Homo sapiens: one gene and its partners. The protein of the gene in region 3 purifies or fractionates together with the protein of the main gene of each other region. This does not show direct contact. Each region holds a gene or a part of one and is shown on either strand. Other genes may lie near its edges. The genes, in order: PSMB7, XPR1 and KIF5B.

Region 1 (2,636 bases), on a different chromosome or scaffold from region 3:
GAGCTCCAGGTAGGCAGGAGCCAAGTACTCCATGTAGCCTGCTTCGCTGGTTATTTTGCAAGATGCGTGATTTGAGCAAGTCCATGGTGAAGCGGTGATGGGGTAGGGAATGGTTACACCATTCAGGCTGGCCAGGGTCCTGGGCGAGGACTCTGAAAGCCACGTCTGGGCCAGTGAGAAGTGGTTGCCTAGGGAACCTGTGCTGAGCGCAGGAGTCCTCATCCACAGGGAGTGCAGCAGTGGCACATCCTACTTCCTGGGACATGGGCTGCTCCACTTGTAAACAGAGGCTCTAAACACCCAAGAACAAAAGAAAACCGCCTTGCGGCTGCTTGGGAAGAATCAGCAAGGCGACCCAGAAGCTGCTGGGCGTGTGGTGGGTGTGCAGTAACCTGCAGGGAGCCTGCTCCCCATCGGTGTCCTGGGGCCAAGGGCAGCAAGTGTCCAAGCTCCCTGGACTCTGTTGTCTTCTTTGCCAGTGACTGAAGATGGGGGCACTGCCTGAGTTAGGGGAGCCCTTCCCAGGGTGGATGCTAGGGTGCGGGCAGGGCGATAGGCCTGAGGAAGCATCCCGTGCCATGCGCCAGTGGGCCTTGCCTGGCAAGTCCCTGCTGCCTGTCTGCCCGCAGCCCTCCAGCACACGGTCTTGCAGTCCACTGGCACGTAAGGCGGAAGCTCTGAATGCATGCCGCAAAAATCGGGCACTGTCACCACAGTGGTGAGGAGGCTCTTGTGTGTCCAAGCCTCCCGGAGACACTGAGGGGTGGTTCAGAGGAGTCAGGCACACAGAGGCCACGTGGGACTTTGGCTCTAAGACTGCACGCTGCCACCAAGGTTCCAGCGTGTGAGGGATGAGGGGCATCCTCAAACTGATGGGGTGGGGACACATTGTTCAAAGGTACTTTTGCTTGGATTCTTTAAGAGGGTGGGGGTCGGGGGAGGCTTGGCAGCATAAAGGCAGGCCGCTCTGGGCTGACCGTGCTCCTGACCTGGATGCAGAACTGTGGAAGTTGCCCTCCTTGTTCTGCTTCCTGCTCCCTCTTTTAGCCCGTGTGTCCAGGGGAGAGGATGGGTGTTCCGGGAGCACAAGGCCATGGCACAGCCAGCAGCCTTCTGGCAGTTCCTGAAGGACAGCAAGTTTGACAGAGATATTACCCCAGCTGGGGCTAGAGCAGAGGAACAGTTGGTTGTGTGCTGCCATTTGACAGTATCCTAATTCCTGACCCACTGTGAGCATTAACAGCCCAAATACATATCTTCTAGACAGTCTGGTGCTCAAAGAAACCTCTGCCAGATTCACTCCAGGAAGAAGGTGTTGGGTGTGTCCTAGTGGGGACCCACTGTGTCCCTGAAAGGGACAGTTAACTTTTCTTGAGACTTGAGAGTGGTCTGAAATGACAAGCCCAGAGTCTGGCTGCACATTTTTTTTACACTGTTTATGCTTCCAGATGTTTGTGCAGTGTCTAAGGTAACAGTTAAGTCATTCTTGTTGCTGCACGGAAGAGCAATCATGCCCTTCTCTTGTGTAATGATGGGATTTGCTTCCTGCTGTCCCTGAACAGTATTGTAGGGAGGTTGAAGATTGATGTCAAGGGACCAAGTGCTTCCCAGCACTTGTGGGGATGGTGGGGTGGGGGGAGAGTCACGTGTCCACCAAGGGCCAGGTGCCGTGTTCACTAATGACACTCTTTGCCTCCCAGGCACCCCCATTTTGCAGCACTTGAGAACTGAGGAAGTTGAATCCCCCAAGATCACAGAGCTGGGATCGGGAGAGCCAAGATTCCAGTCCAGCCTGCTCACTGCGTTGCCTGAATATTTATTTTCACTGTCTTCTGCCCTCTGGCACCTTGAGGAGAATCCTAACTCTGTGCTTTTGTTTTTCTCTTACTAGGCTTGGCCGGTACAGGTGTGAGAAAGGGACTACTGCAGTCCTCACTGAGAAAATCACTCCTCTGGAGATTGAGGTGCTGGAAGAAACAGTCCAAACAATGGACACTTCCTGAATGGCATCAGTGGGTGGCTGGCCGCGGTTCTGGAAGGTGGTGAGCATTGAGGCCCAGTAAGACACTCATGTGGCTAGTGTTTGCCGAATGAAACTCAACTCAATAAAAAACAAAAACCAAATTGGGCAGCTGAGGTCTGGGCACTGTGTGGTGTTTTTGGGGGCAGTAGGGGGCTGCTAAGGCCATTGGCCTGGCCCTTCAGGGTGCTGATCCTCCTTGAGCACTGGCCTAGGCTCAGAGGAGAGCGTAGGAGCCATGCGCCCCTCCTGAGGACAGATAGGTTCTGTCTGCTGTCAGAAGTCAGAGTGGACTCCCTTGAGGCTTCAGGTGACCATCGATACCTACCCTTTTTGCTGGCTGAATTTGTTTGGGGTGGCCTCAGGTTTGGTTTGGTTTTGAAATGGGGTGATAAGTGCAGCACACCCTCCACCTCAGCAGCCAAGTAGGAAAAAAATGGCAAAGCCAAAGCTGTGTTCTCAAGCCCAGCTCAGTTCTGAGAACCAAGAGAAGGTGAGCAGGTGCACCGCCAGAGCTGTGTGAAGGTGGGTGGACCTCACTTTGGCCGGTTTCACAGAAATAAAAGGAATGTTTTGGGGTTACGGTTTTGTAATAAGTAGGACATGATCATTTCAC
Region 2 (3,657 bases), on a different chromosome or scaffold from region 3:
TAACCAAAGCCACTTTCTTTTCACTAATGACATGGTAATGACTGTGTACATCTTGAAATTATACCACAAAAATCAGCCCTCTTCCCACTGTTCTGAACACATGATAAATGTATTAAATGTATTGGGCAGTAACTCATGCAGTGTATTTTCCTCAAGGCTTTATGCAAGCATTAACTCATCTTCATAACAATTCCATGAGCTAGGAACTATTCATATCCCCATTTTACAGAAGACCGACACAGACTCTTCCTAACATATTCTGTGGAAGCCTGTTTATCACTACAAAGGGAAATCTTGGCATTGCAGAGAAGGGAAGTAGGTACCAATGCAATTACCAGAAATAGGCTCAAATTGTGCAGATTGTCTTGATAAGCGCTGTGTGAAGTGAAGATGGGATGAAGGAAGCCTTAATCCTCATCCTAAAGGACCCCTTTCTATCTTATACAGTAGGAAATGTGACTCCTGAAAGAAGAAATTCTGAGTAAGTAGAAGTTTTGAGAAAATGAATCTAATCTCTAGCTCTGATTATCTAGTTATATTCATTTCATAGACATATTCTACTTGGGAATCTGTAACTCTCTTCTCAGACTTGGCTGGATCTGTCTTCTGTTTCTCTAAATATTTATTTTTATTATGTCAGGGAGATAAATGGTCACATTATGACTCAATCCTGGATGTCAACTACCTATGACGGGTACTTTCTTGGAGCTTTGGAAGCTAGACCAGGTGTCTGTGGGACATCATACAGGCTTTGAGACATTATTTTCTGGTGCTGATATACTTTCATTCCATGGCTCAGTCTCTTAACCACTCTCATAATCTTTCCATGAGTCCAACAAACCAGAGAGACAATCTATACCATTTGCAACCATAAGCGCCCGATAAAGCAAACTTTTTGTGAGGAAGAGGGGGACTGTAGGATGGTAGTCATCTATGCACGAAGAAGCTCTGGCACCAGTTTCTGTAATATTTTAAGAAACTCTAGTGTGCAGAATGGACTTAAAGGATTCAAAGTGACAGAAATATAGAATAATTTAGGATATAACACCAAAAGATCAGGAAGTCTAAATCCATCTCTAATCATGAACTATTATGAAACTGGTAGCCTAGGACAAATTTCTTTATAACTGACATGAGACAGACTATCATTACTCTCATACTCTGCCAACCCCATCCTCAAAACCTGGCTAATTCAGAAAATCTCCATAAGAGCAGAAGAGGGAGATAATGCATTAAATAAGGAAAAAAGGGATGGTGGGATGGGACTGAAAAAGGATAGGACTGACATGAAAATTTAAAAAAAAAACTGGGAAGAAGGGAAAATTTACAAAAAGAGAAAATGAAAAAAGGAAGAAAGAAGGGAGTAGTAAATGTTATATAATACAACCAATGAAGGGAAGAATATAATTACAGTCATTCATGTATTTAACAAAGACTTATCAAGTATTTATTAAATGTCAGGCACTGCGGCTTACAGGCCTTAATGATCCACAGTCTAGTTGGGCAAATAAATACATAAAGGTATAATTATAGCACCATATTATAGAGATACACACAAAATACCCTGGAAATACAGAGAAAAGAAGAAGTCACTCTGTCAGAGGCCGGGTGAGAGGGAGAGCATAAACATCATACTCAACTCACTGACATTTACACACAGTCAAATTCATTCTAGATTTATCTGATATCGCCTTCTGGGAGAGAATTCTGTAACTCACTCCTCCTTCTCTTCTTAATCTGGATAAGGCCTTTCAACTTCTCCACTTCTACCCTGTGATTTTGATTAAAGTGACAATTCCTAGAGTAACAGTATTATGAAAGCCAGAGACAATTCTGGATAGCTGATATTTTACCACCTACACAAAAAAGCCACTAAATTATTACAAAGAACATGTTAACATCCTCTTTTAAGTTAATACTGATAAATAGCTAAGAAGATGAAGTTTTAATTTCTACTTTTCATGGAGTGCAGTGGTACAATTTCAGCTCATTGCAACCTCAACCTGCTGGACTCAAGCGATCCTCCTCCCTCAGCCTCCCAAGTAACTGGGGCTACAGATGCGTGCCACCATGCCCCACTAATTTTTCATTTTTTGTAGAGAAAGGGTTTTGCCACGTTGCCCAGGCTGGTCTCGAACTCCTGGGCTTAAGCGATCCTCCCACCTCCGCCTCTCAAAGTGCTAGGATTACAGGCATGAGCTACTGTGCCTGGCCTCAAATTTGATTTTTATATTCTACTAGTTTGATCCACTAGATCAAAGTTAAACATCTAACATAAGTGACTAATAGGGCTAAGTGTTAAATGTTAGTGTTTAAGAGTACAGATTATAAACGACTGCCTGGGTTCATAACTCATCTTCATCACTTCACTGGCTATGTGACCTTAGGCAAGTTAATTAACTTCTCTGAATGTAGGTTTCTTCATTTATAAAATAGGGATTAATAGCAGCTCCAACTTGTGGGTTATTTTTAAAATTAAAATACATAAAGTAGTTACTAAATGACAACACCTCTCTATTCTTATAATAGAAATGTGTAAAATTTTTACTATAGAACTAAAGAGACTGTTGGTAAAAACTGATGTCTAAATTATGTAACAAAGGACTATAATTTAAAATTTTTAATTAGCTTACTTTTAATATAGTGAGTTAAAATTTATATTTTTGTTTAGAAAATCTGAGGCACTGTTTATGCTACCTAATTAGATTTCTGATTGAGGTAAATATAGATTTAAGGAGAGAAAGTATAACCTAATGGATGTAAATAATCTATACTAATTTGACATACAATATTCATATCAAAATAAATCAATTTCTTATAAATTTTTTTAGCTTTGTTTTTAGGAGCATAGCATATATCAATTCCATAGATTCCAATATAAATATGGATATAAATGGCACCCAGTGCCTACCATTATGACCTATGTGCTTTTCTCACTAAAAATTAAAGAAAAGGATGGGTGTGGTGGCTCACACTTGTAATCCCAGCACTTTGGGAGGCAAGGCAGGCAGATGACTTGAGCCCAGGAATTCGAGACCAGCTGGGCAACATGGCAAAACCCCATCTCTACCAAAAATACAAAAAATTGGCCAGGCACGTTGGCACACACCTGTGGTCCTAACTACTGGAGAGGTTGAGGTGGGAGGATCACTTGAACCTGGGAGGTGGAGGTTGCAGTGAGCTGAGATCACGCCACTGCACTTCAGCCTGGGCAATAGAGCCAGACCCTGTCTCAAAAAAAAAAAAAATTAAAGAAAAAAAGAAAGAAATGTACTTTTACTTTAGGATGAAGCTTTTAAAAAGCGGTATCAGAAAAACATAACTAGAGTGAACACATTCTTGTTAATTCACTAGGAATCAGTCTAAGGGTAAGTTTTCCCAGTGAGATTTAAATTAAAATAAGTCAGCAGGTCAATTAATACTAAAATTATCTACAAATGATAACACTGTTCTGTTTATAACAGTTACTACAAAAACAACAAACCACAAATATAGAAGGAAATTATTCCTTCTATATTTCAGTGTATCTGATAGTACATTTTATTATTCTATTACTGCTTATACCATTGTCAACCTATTCCATCAACAAGTCCTCATTTATTAGCAAAAACACAGCAGATGCACAAATAAATATCTACTCAATGGGCAATCATTCTG
Region 3 (3,657 bases):
TTTCTGCTCTTGGAAATGTTATTTCTGCTTTGGCTGAGGGTAGTGTGAGTATACATGTCTTCTATCTCCCTGTTACCTTATGGGGCATTATTTAAATATAGGTGTATATGTGTGCCTGGGTGTGTATGAGAGAGAGAGAGAGAAAGAGAGATTGAGATTCAATGTGTTTGAATCAGTATGTGTAAGTTAGTTGTCTTTTGGGAGTTTATTTTATAATAACATTTTATTATACTGGTCTTGTTTTCTTTCTTTGTTTTTGTATGCAGACATATGTTCCATATCGAGATAGTAAAATGACAAGAATCCTTCAAGATTCATTAGGTGGCAACTGTAGAACCACTATTGTAATTTGCTGCTCTCCATCATCATACAATGAGTCTGAAACAAAATCTACACTCTTATTTGGCCAAAGGTTTGTTGTTAAGAAAGTACAAAACCTAAATTTAGATAGACCTTTTGTTTATAAAATGTAGGAAAATGTGAGCTGTTATTCCAACCTGTACATACTGTTTTGTGCTAGACACACTCAGTTTGAATTGATGACAGATAATACAAGGTGGGTCTGATTTTTAGACTGCTTGGTTTAAGTTTTAGTACACATTAAAGTCAGATGTAATTTTAGTCAAATTTGTGTGACAAGCTGTAATTTGGTATTAAAGAAAATAAGCATTTGAATCAAATAATGAGGTCAAAGCCTGGCAAACATAATCCTCTGTTAAGCCTGTAGACATGCATGACAGGTTAATATAATCTGTATGAGATGATTAGGAAAATCAGTAATGATGATTCCGTCTTTGACTTTCAACAGTAATTTCTTAATTCAGCCTTGCAAACAAATTGGAAAAATATAGGCCTTTGTCTTTTATTTTTAGTGGTTTGTTGATTTTTTTTTTTTTAAAGCTATTCACAGATTTTGGAGCAGACTCAAATTTAGTTGAGTTGTAAATAACGTCATATGTTGCGGCTTTTAGTATTTAGTCTAAGAGATTACTGGACAAGCATAAGTTTCTTAGCCATATATACATATATTCCATATAGATAAAATTAAAAATAATTTCAGTCTCATCCTTTTTTTCCTCCAATTACATCTCTTAGGGCCAAAACAATTAAGAACACAGTTTGTGTCAATGTGGAGTTAACTGCAGAACAGTGGAAAAAGAAGTATGAAAAAGAAAAAGAAAAAAATAAGATCCTGCGGAACACTATTCAGTGGCTTGAAAATGAGCTCAACAGATGGCGTAATGGTAATAACTTAAGAATTTGTCATCTTCAGTTTGTTAAATACAGATTTAGAGCATAGAAACGTAGAAATAGTTCAGCAAAATCAGTAAGTGACTAGATCAAGAAATTTAATAGACATCGAAATAATTTTTAAAAAAATTAATAGAAATCCTGGAGCTGAAAAATAAAATGAGCAAAATGCAAGAGACCATCAGTAGTAGAATTAATTAAGCAGAAGAATCTGAACTTGAAGACAGATTATTTGAAAATAACACAGAGAAGAAAAAGTTTGAAAGAACGAGGCTGGGTGCACTGGCTCATGCCTGTAATCCTAGCACTTTGGGAGGCCAAGGTGGGCAGATCACTTGAGGTCAGGAGTTAGAGACCAGCCTGGCCAACATGTTGAAACCCCATCTCTACTGAAAACACCAAAATTAGCCTGGCATGGTGCTGAGCGCCTGTAATCCCAGCTAATCAGGAGTCTTGAGGCAGTAGAATTGCTTGAACCCTGGAGGCAGAGGTTGCAGTGAGCCTAGATTGCACCACTGCACTCCAGCCAGGGTGACAGATTGAGACTCTGTCTCAAAAAAAAAAAAAAAAATTTTTAAAGGAATGAAATTGAAATTAGCTTTAGACGTCGTTTTTTTATTAACCACTTTATTTTCTTATTTTAGGGGAGACGGTGCCTATTGATGAACAGTTTGACAAAGAGAAAGCCAACTTGGAAGCTTTCACAGTGGATAAAGATATTACTCTTACCAATGATAAACCAGCAACCGCAATTGGAGTTATAGGAAATTTTACTGATGCTGAAAGAAGAAAGTGTGAAGAAGAAATTGCTAAATTATACAAACAGCTTGATGACAAGGTAGGTATTGCTTGATTTAGGTCTGCTTTATATTAGGATACTATTGACATGGGTGTTTTTATTTTCTAACTTTTCTCATTTCAGTGCTGTGGGCACTTAGGATCTTTATGCATCTTCCTTGATTTCTGTTAATCTTGTAAAAATTATTGTATTAACAAAATAAAAAGTCATAATTTCAATTTCTGTGTGGAAACTGTATGAGCATGTATCTTTTCTTCCCCCTCTTTTTAAGCTAAAAGAACTTTATAAGGCAGCAGTCCCCAACCTTTTTGGCACCAGGGACTGGTTTCAGGGAAGACAGTTTTTCCGTGGATCAGGTCGGGGAGATGGTTTTGGGATGAAACTTCCACCTTGGATTATCAGGCATTAGATTCTCATAAGGATCCTCTAACCTAGATCTCTTGCATGCACAGCTGATAATAGAGTTCGCGCTCTTAATGATATTCTAATGCTGCTGATCTGGCAGAAGGCGGAGCTCAAGTGGTAATGCTTGCTGCTCACCTCCTGCTGTGCTTCTTGGTTCCTAACAGGCTTCCAGTACTGCTTTGTGGCCTGGGGGCTTGGGGACCCCTGTTCTAATGAAAATTTGGCATTGGGTCATTGGGAGCCTCAATGATACCAATTGTTAGAATCAGGGCTCTGAAGACTCCAATAAAAGATGATGTGAGAGATTAAGGGAAACACAATAGAGTGGAAATAATATCTTCCTGCTTTGCATATAGAAGTAATGTCAATAGTATGAATAATAGCAAACTAAGAACGTAATAGAATGGAAGGCAAGAACAAGAGTAGTAAAGAGATTAGAAGAAAATATTTTCTTAAGTTGATATTTTTAATATATTTTAAGCAGAGATGGCAGGTTCGAAGTACATGACCATTATAAGTATTGATAATTGAAAGAAATTCCTTTTGTTTTGCCATTTTCTTAAAAGAGATTAAAATAAGCAATGTTGAATTTAGAGAAATGGTTTTGAAATATTTCTGGGGAGTAGTAATCTTATAACCTGTATTGGGAAACAACTAGAACCAGGTTGTTAGCTACTGGTTAACCGGATACTTCACAATTCTAGGATGAAGAAATTAACCAGCAAAGTCAACTGGTAGAGAAACTGAAGACGCAAATGTTGGATCAGGAGGAGGTGAGTTGAATACCTTTTACATTGCTTCCAGAAAAGCTTTATAGTTTTGTTTTCTGAATCCCATTGACTTTGTCTTTAATAGTTGTATAATTTTGGGTATGACTGTCTTTGTGGGAATAAGAATGTCACATGGATAAAGTGAATTTTTACTTATTCATCGTATCTACCCAGATACAATCTGTTGTTCATTTCCGCCATCTTTTTTTTCACCCTGGTTCTTGACATTTCTCTTCTTGTCACTTACTTTGGATCCTCATTTTATCTTCTCACCCAGCAGAGCAGGGGGATAATTGAAAAGCAGTCCTTTAAATTTTTTTGTGGGGGTGGTGGGCAGGGTGAAGACAAAGACTGCTTCGGTAAGAAAGAGATACTCTCCATCAGTGAACTTAATCCTGGTCAGATCATCTTTCAACTATAGCATTTCATATT

The links.
Region 1: the proteins of KIF5B (region 3) and PSMB7 fractionate together in Homo sapiens (co-fractionation; 2 studies listed by BioGRID). This does not show direct contact.
Region 2: the proteins of KIF5B (region 3) and XPR1 purify together in Homo sapiens (affinity purification with mass spectrometry; 2 studies listed by BioGRID and IntAct, with this or other methods). This does not show direct contact.

What each region holds. Positions count from the first base shown.
Region 1 is NC_000009.12:124,352,965-124,355,600, reverse strand, and holds the end of PSMB7 (proteasome subunit beta type-7 precursor), read left to right. Parts: exon of another isoform or gene 1-1,891; coding exon 1,892-2,003; 3' UTR 2,004-2,136; downstream 2,137-2,636. UniProt on the Homo sapiens protein: Component of the 20S core proteasome complex involved in the proteolytic degradation of most intracellular proteins. This complex plays numerous essential roles within the cell by associating with different regulatory particles.
Region 2 is NC_000001.11:180,827,472-180,831,128, reverse strand, and holds part of XPR1 (solute carrier family 53 member 1), read right to left. Parts: intron 1-3,657. UniProt on the Homo sapiens protein: Inorganic ion transporter that mediates phosphate ion export across plasma membrane.
Region 3 is NC_000010.11:32,032,277-32,035,933, reverse strand, and holds part of KIF5B (kinesin-1 heavy chain), read left to right. Parts: coding exon 1-44; intron 45-266; coding exon 267-412; intron 413-1,095; coding exon 1,096-1,244; intron 1,245-1,895; coding exon 1,896-2,089; intron 2,090-3,159; coding exon 3,160-3,228; intron 3,229-3,657. UniProt on the Homo sapiens protein: Microtubule-dependent motor required for normal distribution of mitochondria and lysosomes. Can induce formation of neurite-like membrane protrusions in non-neuronal cells in a ZFYVE27-dependent manner.